Linked DNA regions of Homo sapiens: region 1 is linked to region 2. A link means that fine-mapping ties the variant in region 2 to the expression of a gene that starts in the linked region. Tissue or cell type: whole blood. Region 2 holds a variant in brackets; the other region holds the start of a gene. All regions are shown on one strand. Distances are from middle to middle. Region 1 holds the start of MICAL1 (microtubule associated monooxygenase, calponin and LIM domain containing 1). Region 2 overlaps AK9 (adenylate kinase 9).

What was found. PIP is the estimated chance that this variant, and not a neighbour inherited with it, causes the effect.
Region 1: it holds the start of MICAL1, and the variant in region 2 is fine-mapped to the expression of MICAL1 in whole blood (TOPMed, PIP above 0.99).

What each region holds. Positions count from the first base shown.
Region 1 is chr6:109,453,589-109,458,588 of GRCh38, reverse strand. MICAL1 (microtubule associated monooxygenase, calponin and LIM domain containing 1) reads left to right here and starts at 2,817. Exons shown (of 25, transcript NM_022765.4): 1 at 2,817-2,870; 2 at 4,350-4,650; 3 at 4,744-4,951. The coding sequence starts at 4,393. RefSeq lists silencers at 2,196-3,045, 3,406-3,745 and enhancers at 3,305-3,813, 3,896-3,945, 4,176-4,225.
Region 2 is chr6:109,613,553-109,619,079 of GRCh38, reverse strand. AK9 (adenylate kinase 9) reads left to right here. Exons shown (of 41, transcript NM_001145128.3): 14 at 4,600-4,695; 15 at 4,784-4,897. Among named protein-coding and RNA genes, the nearest start is that of AK9, 75 kb to the left of the region's middle. The variant AT/T (reference allele first, on the strand shown) is at 2,688.

The DNA.
Region 1 (5,000 bases), 160 kb after region 2:
GTTTCACCCTCGTTGCCCAGGCTGGAGTGCAATGGAACGATCTCAGCTTACCGCAACCTCCACCTCCCGAGTTCAAGCGATTCTCCTGCCTCAGCCTTCCTGAGTAGCTGGGATTACAGGCATGTGCCACCATGCCTGGCTAATTTTGTATTTTTCATAGAGTTGGGGTTTCTCCATGTTGCTCAGGCTGGTCTCGAACTCCCGACCTCAGGTGATCTGCCCGCCTCAGCCTCCCAAAGTGCTGGGATTACAGGCATGAGCCACTGTGCCCAGCCTTAGAATGGGACTCTTTAAACTGACTTCATGTGTCACCCACTTATTTGATCCAATATGAATTGGCCAATGTGATTGTGCCAGTATTTTTAGTTCTACATACACATAATTTGAATCATGACTCAAGATTCTAATTAAGGAGAGAAATTCTTGTGGTTAATAAATAGCTTTAATAGAGTTTTTTTTTTTTTTCTTGGAAGAAATTCTAAGTAGAACTTGGTTTGGGTCTTCTAGTCTGTTCATTTCTTAGGACAGCATTGAATGATAGGATTTTGGAGTAGAAATGGGCTGAGAAGGCTGAGTAATTAAACTGCCTCCATTTAGAGATGGGCAGACGAAGTGTGGTTGGTGACATCCAAGGTCACACTAGGCTAGCGTGAAGCAAAGCTGGAATCCAACCAGACCTTCTGGATTCCAGAACAATGTATTCCCTGCTGCTTTATGCCCCCATGTTAAGTATTTAATTAGCATAAGTTGAAACTTCAAGTCAGCAGTTTTTAGCACTGATGAACTCATTATTGTTCTCTGATCTTCTTTAAAGACAAATTTTATGATGTGTCATTCATAGAGCCACATGACCCTGCTTGGCAAAAGGCATTGAGTCAAGCCAGACCCCACTAAGCCTTTGCAAAGTGGAGCGGCTAGTTGTAGCCGCTGTAGTTGTAGTAAGTGGAGCGGCTAGTTGTGTACCATCTGCTAGTGAAAGGGAAATGAGATTATTCTAGAAGCCAGGGACTGTCTCGGGATCTCTTATGGTCTCTGGATCTCTTATGGTCTCTGGATCTCAAGGACAGCAACCCTCCTCTTTATTCCTCGGTTTTATTAGTGTTTCCAGCGTGACAGTTCACTTCCTCTAAACAAGACATAGCTTCGTATAATGCCAGCCTTTCACGCATCATTTTGAATCAACCCTGGGGTGGTGGAGCCCAGGGTAACCCAGCTGTAGTGGACTTTAGAACGTTTTTACACCATGTATTTAAATATGGGTGTGTCTGATATTCGGCAAATTCATTTCAAGCCAAATGACGTGTCACACTCAAAAGCTAGGATGGGCCCAACTGAGAGGCTGCCCTAGTTTTCTGAGCGTGACCTGGCTGAATTCCCTCGCCTCTCCTGGCAGAGAACAGGCATTTCCCCTTGCTTTCGTCCCACTGCCTGCTTCTCAGCTCGAGCTGGGAACAGTGAGTGTTCAGGTCTTACTGGGTCTCAGATATTTTCCAGATGAAATGCAAAATGAGAATAAAGGGAGAGGCCCTATTCCCTCCCAGCTCTTTATGGTCTCTGGATCTCAAGGACAGCAACCCTCTTATTTATACCTGGGTTTTATTAGTGCTTCCAGTGTAACAGTATCACTTCGTCTAAACAAGAAACAGCATCTTATAATGCCAGCCTTTCATGCGTCATTTTGGGTCAACCCTGGGGTGGTGGAGCCGACAGACCTGGGCCCCCAAACAGCTCTGCCACTTGCTGTGTGCAGATCACAGAACATCTGTGACTCAGTTTCCTTTTTGGTAAAATGGGACTGTTGCAAGCACTGATGTTGAGGTAATACTCATAGGATGACGGTCAATAAATGAGACGATGTTTTTTAATATTAACTAGCTAAAAGACTGGACGCGTCCCTTCACTTTAGGCGCTGTTCCTTATCGGGAATACGACGAAGCTGATCCCAAAGGCCTCTCCAGCCCTTTTCAGCAGACAGTCCCGTGGGTCCTCACTCTAAGGCATTCTTTGAAGACTTGGTCTCTCTTCCACACACCCCTCCCATTCCCCATCTCTTAGTGGTGGTCTAACCCGCCCCGCCATCCCCTTCCCTCTCACTTCTCATATCCATTTGGAAGCTGCAGATTGCTGAGTTTCCAGGACTTTAATCCGCGCCCTTTGCCCTCGGCCCGGGCTTAGGGGTCGACCTCTGTCACAGGAGGCGCACTCTGCGCTTGGATCCATCCTGGGGCGCCCGGGCCGTGGATCTCCAGGTGGGAGACCGGAGGAGAGCGCAGACGTTCCGGCGCCACCCTCGGACCCGCCGGCTTTTCCAAACCTCTTGAGGAGCCTGAGCGCCCTCTCGGCCCGGCGCTGGGAGGCTGCCAGCGGACCTGGGACCGCGGCGGGGGCGGGTGGTCCTCGCCTTGCGGCGGGGAAAGAGCTAGCCTTGCACGCGCAAGCACCGGCAAGGAGCCCAGGCCGAGGGTGCGCGGTCCAGCACTGGGCGCCCTGACCCTCGAGCTCCTCAGCCCCCAACAGGCCAGACCCACCCAGAGGCCCCAGAGCGGAACGGGGTGTCCGCAGCGCCACGCCCTCGGGCGCCACCCTGCAGGCATGGGCGGGCCCAAGACTGTCCCCGCTGGAGGCGGTAGAGGGATCCAGAAGTAATGAGATGCTAATGAGTCGCGAATAAAGCCCGGGCGGCGCCCCGCGCCCCTCGCGGAAGCCCACACTCCGCGCGACTCCAGGCGCACGCCCCGGGCCGCCCCGCATCCCAGCATCCCCGCCCGATCTCGGCGTTTCCGCCCCCGCCCCCGCCCCCGCCCTCCCACCCGCTCAGACCTGGTTGCCAGCCCAACAGGAAGCGGCCCCTCCCGGCTTCGGAGCCGCCGGTAAGTCGTCCAGCGGAGCCGGCTGCGAGCCCCGCGGCCGGGTGGGGTGAGGTGGGGTGCGCTTCCGGGGAAACGCAGCTGCGGTCGCTCGGGAACCACGCCTGGCAGGTCAGGCAGGTCTTCCCTCAGCCCAGCCCTGCTCACGCCGCGTCCGGACTTTGCCGTCCAGTGTCGGGGACCCCCACCGCTGCCGCCCGCGGTCCAGCTCCCTCTCCATCCTTTCAGACCGCTCCACCCCTCTCACAGCCTTTGTCCTGGCGTTTCCAGGCTGGGTCGCTCCTTTCTCCCCTTTCGCCGAGGTCTTCCTCCTTCCACCCTCCACCCCCAAGAAAGATCTTTGCCCTTCCGTCATGAGATTCCGTCTGCCCTCGTCCGGGCCACCCGCAGCGGGAGGCTTTCATCTCCTGTCTCGGCGCGGCGGGCTGGGAACGGAGGGGCAGCTGGATGGTGGAGGGGCCTGAGCCTCAGGGACCTGCCCCCACTGCTGCCATTCACCCTCCCTAACGCTGCCGTGGACACCCGCCTCCTCCATACCCTCTGATACCTTCTGGGCCCCGCGTGAGAAACCCCCTCGGGCACCCTTCAGGTGGCGTGGGAGGGGGCGACAAAGCGAGGCTTTGTCTCCGGAGATTCCTGGGAGAGCGCGCCCGGGCGCACAGGGGGCGGGGCGGGGTAGGGGTCGATCAGGGAGGGGGGAACCTGGGAGGGGCGCACCCGGCTGCGGTCGACCCCCAGCCCTACCCACGGCCCCCTGGAGTAGGGCACATTCACAGAGGAAGTGTTTTGACCACAGTGCGTCAGAAATAGACCCAGGCCTCCGTTCCCCAGTCAGTCGCAACATCCTCCCGCCGTTTGTTGAGGCAGTTTGGTGGAGGGAAGTGGAACCTACGCGGACAGAGGCTGTTTCTCTGTCAGGAGGCAAGCACGAGTGCTGAGGAAAACTTTGCCCTTGCCATGAGACACTTCTCAGACACAGCGTGGCACTGAGGCCATCAAGGGGCGCCGGCACAGGGACGCTTGGAGGGAGATGGGGCAGGATGTATGCTCAGCAGCTGGGGTTGTGGGTATCAGATCTGTCCCTGTGTTGCATGCAAAGGCAGCTCTGTCCTCTCCACATCTAAGAAATCCCCGCACACCCTGATTCCAAGGCCTAAGGAAGGCAGGCTAAGAATTCCTACCCCAGGGCTTGGAGATCCCTGGACAGGGAGGCTGAACTGGAGGCTCCCCTGGTGTCCCATGTGCCCTCTGTGCCCAAGACTAATGTTTTTCACTTCCAAATTTGGCAAATTTCACTTGGAGTGGACTGGATAGCAGCTGTCTCTGGAGCAGATGCTGGCAGGGGAATGGGCTGGGAGGAGCAGAGCCAATCACTGGTGAATCCCGAGCTCCCTGGGGACACCAGCCTGCTCTCTTCGCCTCCCCTTCCTTTTTATTTCTTCTGTTCTCCAGCCTCTTCCCCTTCTTTTTCCACCTCTCCAGCCACTCATCTCTGCCCAGCTGCTGCCCTCCCCAGGAGGCCTCCATGGCTTCACCTACCTCCACCAACCCAGCGCATGCCCACTTTGAGAGCTTCCTGCAGGCCCAGCTGTGCCAGGACGTGCTGAGCAGCTTCCAGGAGCTGTGTGGGGCCCTGGGGCTGGAACCCGGTGGGGGGCTGCCCCAGTACCACAAGATCAAGGACCAGCTCAACTACTGGAGCGCCAAGTCACTGTGGACCAAGCTGGACAAGCGAGCAGGCCAGCCTGTCTACCAGCAGGGCCGGGCCTGCACCAGCACCAAGGTGGATACACGGTGCCTGGGATGGGGTGTGGAGCATGCGGGGAGTCAGAGGACGGACAGGATGCCATGCCCTCACTGCCCTGTGTGTTCACAGTGCCTGGTGGTGGGTGCTGGACCTTGCGGGCTGCGGGTCGCTGTGGAGCTGGCGCTGCTGGGGGCCCGAGTGGTGCTGGTGGAAAAGCGCACCAAGTTCTCTCGCCACAACGTGCTCCACCTCTGGCCCTTCACCATCCACGACCTGCGGGCACTCGGTGCTAAGAAGTTCTACGGGCGCTTCTGCACCGGCACCCTGGACCACATCAGTGAGCACCACGTGGTGGCCTGGAGGGGCGGGTGAGCTTGGGCCTAGAG
Region 2 (5,527 bases):
TTTAAAATGTGTGTTTTAAGTTTAGGTAAAAATTAAGCCGGGCTACTTGAAAGCAAGGACTTTGTTTAGCTCATCTTGGCATTCTTGGCACTTTACACATTATAGACTCTTAACAAATGGTTGAAGAATGGATGTACATAAACCAATTCAAAAGCAGAGAAAAAAACTTTCAATTCTAGACCTCTAAGGAATGAATCAGAATGAGCCTCTAAATTTGGATTTCTTTCTCCAATGGGTCTACCTTACTGGGCAGACTGTTTGATCAGGATTTACACCTTTATCTACACCAGTCATTAAAACAACAGGAAGAATCCACCTGACTCTTGTGGAGTTTGTTGTTTTAGACTTATATGGCAGTCCTGATTGTGACTAAATCTTTCTATTTGGGAAAGATTAATTTAATGCGATGAAACTAGAAGAAGCCTTTGTGATCACTTAACACCCTTCTCTAATTTTATAGTTGAGAGAACTGAGGTTCATGGAGGTTGAATGGCTCCCTGGAAATCACCCAGCGGGTAGCATAGCTGAGACTTGATCCCTCATTTCCAAAGTCCTGGTGGTCTTTCTCCTGACCATTCTGCCTCTTCCTGTGTCTCACTGACTGTTGATCACATTGCAGAATAGACAAAAAGCGTTTTGTTTTTTTTTTTCTGTTTTTCTCCAGGAAAAATGAGAGTTCTCATTTCATGACTACTTTTGATGTTCATTGATTGGTTTTTGCAGACTTTCTATCTCTAGTTGGTAGTCTTGTAACTAATCATATTAGAACACATGAAAGTAGCTTAATCTAAACCTTTCCTCTTAATGGAATGTCCTTAATGCAACATTTCCTATGTACAACATGGGATCTTCCTCACTTTCAAAAATCTAAATCCAAAATCTGGGATTAGCTTCAGCAATTTTAGCTAGATTCAGTCACCACTGTTCAGAGTCCCAGAAGCTATGGCAGTGCACTCTGTGGCCATCAGTGCATCCATTCCAAATATCCTTTTCCTAATTATGTTTTTCTGATGACAAAAGTAATAATAGCCATTCGTGATGCATTTACTACAGGCTGGAGCTATGCTAACTGCATTGCATGTATTATCCTATTTAATCCTCATGACAAGTTTGCACGGTAGATGTTCTTATGGCCAATTCTAGTGGTTGAAGAAACTCAGAGGGATTATTTAAGAGTCAACAGCCAGCAAGTGATTGGGATTCAAATAAATGTGCTCTTCTTTACTGTGTCTCTCAAGTGAGCACAGAAAACCAGAAAAAGCAGATAGAAGGAAAACTCACTCATACTTAGAACGAGAACCATTCTTATTCTTTGCTGCTCTCTTTTTTTCTATTCATGTTTGTAATGGTTAATTGTGATCCTATGGTATACGCAAAATTACATTCACTGATTTTAAAATAATACTTCTTTCTAATTAAGATGTAATTATTATAATACATTTTGTATTAGATATATCTCTAAATTCATTATTTTTCCCAAATGCTGAGCCAATGTTACAAATAACAATTACTAAATTATCCATAATTTTACTGGAGGTTTGAAATGCCAACTTTATCCTAATATTAAGTTTGTGTGTGTATGTATAAACTTCTGGAATTTCTATTCTATTGATATTTATAGTAAACTTTTAATACATAATGTAATTATCAAAGCTTTATGATACATTTTTACTCTTGTGATAATATAAATCCTCCCTCAAAACATTTTGTTTTAAGTTGTTTCCTGATTATTTCTTCATTTGTTCCATGAAATGGGTGCTTATTGTTTGCCAGAAACTGTACTAGATGTTAGGATGCTTGTAGAATTTTTCTCAAGTTCTACAACAAATCCAAATGGGAGGATTGTATTAATATTATATAATAATTTGGTAAGAGTTCTCATATTTACTATTAGATCTTCTCATGCAGACATGAAATCTCCATTTTTTAGTCTAGTTTTGTCTTTCCATAATATTTGGTAGCTTTCTTCATGTGTTGTCTACAGTTTTCTTAATAAGCTTATTTCCAGATATTTTGTCATTTTATTACTAGTGAATGGGATCTTTTTATAATATTTTCTAAGTAGTTATTAACAGTATGTTGGAAAGCTATTTGATTTTCATATATTTATTTATAACTATCTAGTTTATTAAACTTACTTTCTAGTTCTGATGGACTTTCAGTTGATTCTCTTGGGTTTTCCAGAGAGCTAATCATATAATTTGAAAAGAAGTATAGTTTAAACCCCTCTTTTTCCAATACTTATATTTATTTCCTTTCTTGACTAATTAGGTAGGTGAGCAATTCTAGAATGTCAAATAGTGGTTGTGATACTGACCATCTTTAAAGGGGTTCTGGTCAATATTTCTCCATCAGGTTATTAAGTATTTTTATCTGGAATAGATATTGAAAATTGCCAAAAGCAGTCAAGGTCAGTGGCTCATACCTGTAATCCCAATGCTCTGCGAAGCCAAAGTGGGACGATCTCTTGAGGCTAAGAGTTCAAGATCAGCCTGGGCAACAAAGGGAGACATTATTTCTACCAAAAAAAAAAAATTAGTTGGGTGTGGGGGTCCACACCTGTAGACTCAGCTACTCAGGAGGCTGAGATGGGAGGATCACTTGAGCCCAGGAGGTTGAGGCTGCAGTAAGCTATGATCACATCACCACACTCCAACCTGTGTCAAAAAAAAAAGAAAGAAAAAAAA[AT/T]GAAAATTATCAAATGTATTGCCAGCATCTTTCAAGAAAATCATTAAGTTTTTAATCCTTTGACCTATTGATTTGATCAGTTATACTAATGTATTTTCCAACATTAAACAATTCTTGTATTTCTGAAATAAACCTTACTTCGTTTCAGTTGGACTTTCAGTTGATTCTCTTGGGTTTTCCAGAGAGCTAATCACATAATTTGAAAAGAAGTATAGTTTAAACCCCTCTTTTTCCAATACTTATATTTATTTCCTTTCTTGACTAATTATGTAGGTAAGCAATTAATGTCAAATAGTGGTTGTGATTTTTTTTTTTCTGGCAGAGACAGGGGTCTCAGTATGATGTCCAGGCTGGTCTCTAACTCCTGGCCTCAAGTGATCCTCCGGCCTTGGCCTCCCAAAGTGCTGCGATTACAGGCATGAGCCGCTGTGCCTAGTTTCATTATTCTTATAACATTTTTTTTACTTTTGTTTGTTTATTTAGGACTTTTCCCCTACATTCTTAGGTGTGACTGGTTTATAGTTGAGCGGGGGAGATGTTCTCTATTTGTCAGAGTTTGCTATCGTTTCTTTTTTAACTTTTTACATAAATTGGGAAGCTTCTCAACATTTTGCATGCTTGAAACTATTTAAATAGCAAGGAAATTACTTCTCTGTGTTGAGTTTTTGCTAGATGAGAACACAGTATTTACCTAATAAATCTGCCTCTCTTCTTTCTCAGCCTATAAACAAATAAAATAATTCAACATGGTGCCCAAGAGATTACAAAAAACAACAAAAAGACCAGCACTGAAATTGCATGCCATCCAAATGGTTATCCAGACAATCTAGAGTGAAGTTATATTTTTAGTATAATACCTTCAAAATTAAAATTAAAATTTTAAAATATCTCAGTCAACTTACAAACTGAAGCTGGAGAAATATTGGCTCAGTCTACTAAAGTGGCTTGTTATTCAACCTATTTAAGGCTGGACAAAATGAATTTATTAATTCATTCAACAAATACTTGAATACCTACTTTGTATTAGACTTTATTCTAGGCACCAGCAATACAGATGAGAACAAGACACATGAAGTCCCTATCCTTGTGGTGCTCACATTTTAATAGAAGGCAGAAGGCAAAAAAAAAAAAAAGCCAAGGGAACAGATGGAAAAAAAATACAACATGGTAATGGGGCAGACAGTGATTGGAGTAGGGATACTGAAGTGTTGGGATGCCCAGGGAAGACCTCTCCAAAGAGGGGACGTTTGACTGAGACCTGGACCAAGGCAGGAAGTTAGCCGGGCTCCTGGAGGAAGAACAGTGATCTGTAATGTTTCTTTCACATTAAATTATAACATTAAATCATAGATTTTACAGCTTTCCACAAATTGCCTTCTCCCACTGGAATATAGCAATAGATGCTATCTCTCATATGCTGCAAACTTAAAAGCCTTTTTATTTTCTTTTCCAAATTCACTAATTATTCTAAATCTGACAATAGGAGTAACTCTACTTAAAATTTTAAATTGGAATTTTTTGCTGTTGAAGTTTGCCTCAATATATTTTTAAGAAAAATTTGTCAGTGGAGAATATTGAGGTTTTTTTAACATAAAAATTACATGATTATACAGAGGATGGCAGCTAACATGGAACAGCCTTCCTGTGTGCCAGCATTTTCCAAGTTAAGTATTTATATTCATTACCTCATTTAATCCTCACAGCAGTGCTTTCAGTTTAAAGATCCTCATTTTGCCTAGAAATTGAGACAAAAAGATCAAGTGATTTACCAAAGTCACACAGCCCTTACAGCTTATAAGTCAGAACTGAAACTCAACTGTGTCTAACTTTGAAGCAGGGGCTTTTGGTCACTCTACCTGTTTTTCTATCCCCAACTACGTTTTGCTAACACCACCCATTGTTATATTTCAGCTGAAACAGCTTTAAGAGAATTTCAAAGGCAATATGAAAAAATGGAGTTTGGAGTATTCCCAATGGAGGCAACACACTCATCAATTGATGAAGAAGGTAAAGAAATATATTGCTGATGTTATTGACCAAATCATCCCTAATATAAATAGATTAGCTGATAAAGTATATTATTCTTTCATTGCAGGGTACATTCAAGGCTCCCAAAGGGACAGAGGCAGCTCTTTAGTGGACACCGAAGAAGCCAAAACAAAGTCAGAAAATGTCCTCCATGATCAAGCTGCTAAAGTTGATAAAGATGGTAACAAAGTGAACTGCTAATCCCACGTTTGTGGATCTCATTTTCATTTATTTCATATTTGATTATGTTTATATTTATGCTTAAAATTACCCCCAAAATTGGAAACTTCAGGAGGAAAAAAGCTAAATATTTCCTTATGGATTTAACCTGAACAACTGTAGAACAGAAGTCAATTTATTAGAATAAAGAAGAAAACATATAAATGGGGAGTCAGATACAATTAGAGCCCAAAGAAAAATGTTTGAATGTTTCCAATGTTATAAAATCATTATCATATCATAAATTCTTTTTAAAAGCTCTCTACTTTAACGTATTGGAATCAGAGCATCTTAAGGCCACAATTTTAGCTGTGAAATTTTATCATTTACCCATTGTGCTATTTATCCTTATAAAATTTTTCTATTCATATTTGAACATAAGAGCATATAGCATTACATTATATAATAATTATATGTAATATATTATAGAATAGCTGTAATATATTATAGAATAGCTATAATATAGACTGTTTTTACATTTTTTTACTTATAATGTACCATTTAATTATATTACTTCATTGGGAAATATTTTAACCCTCATTATAAGTTACTGCACAATTTCTCTAGAATTCCTGGGGATTTCTAGGAACTA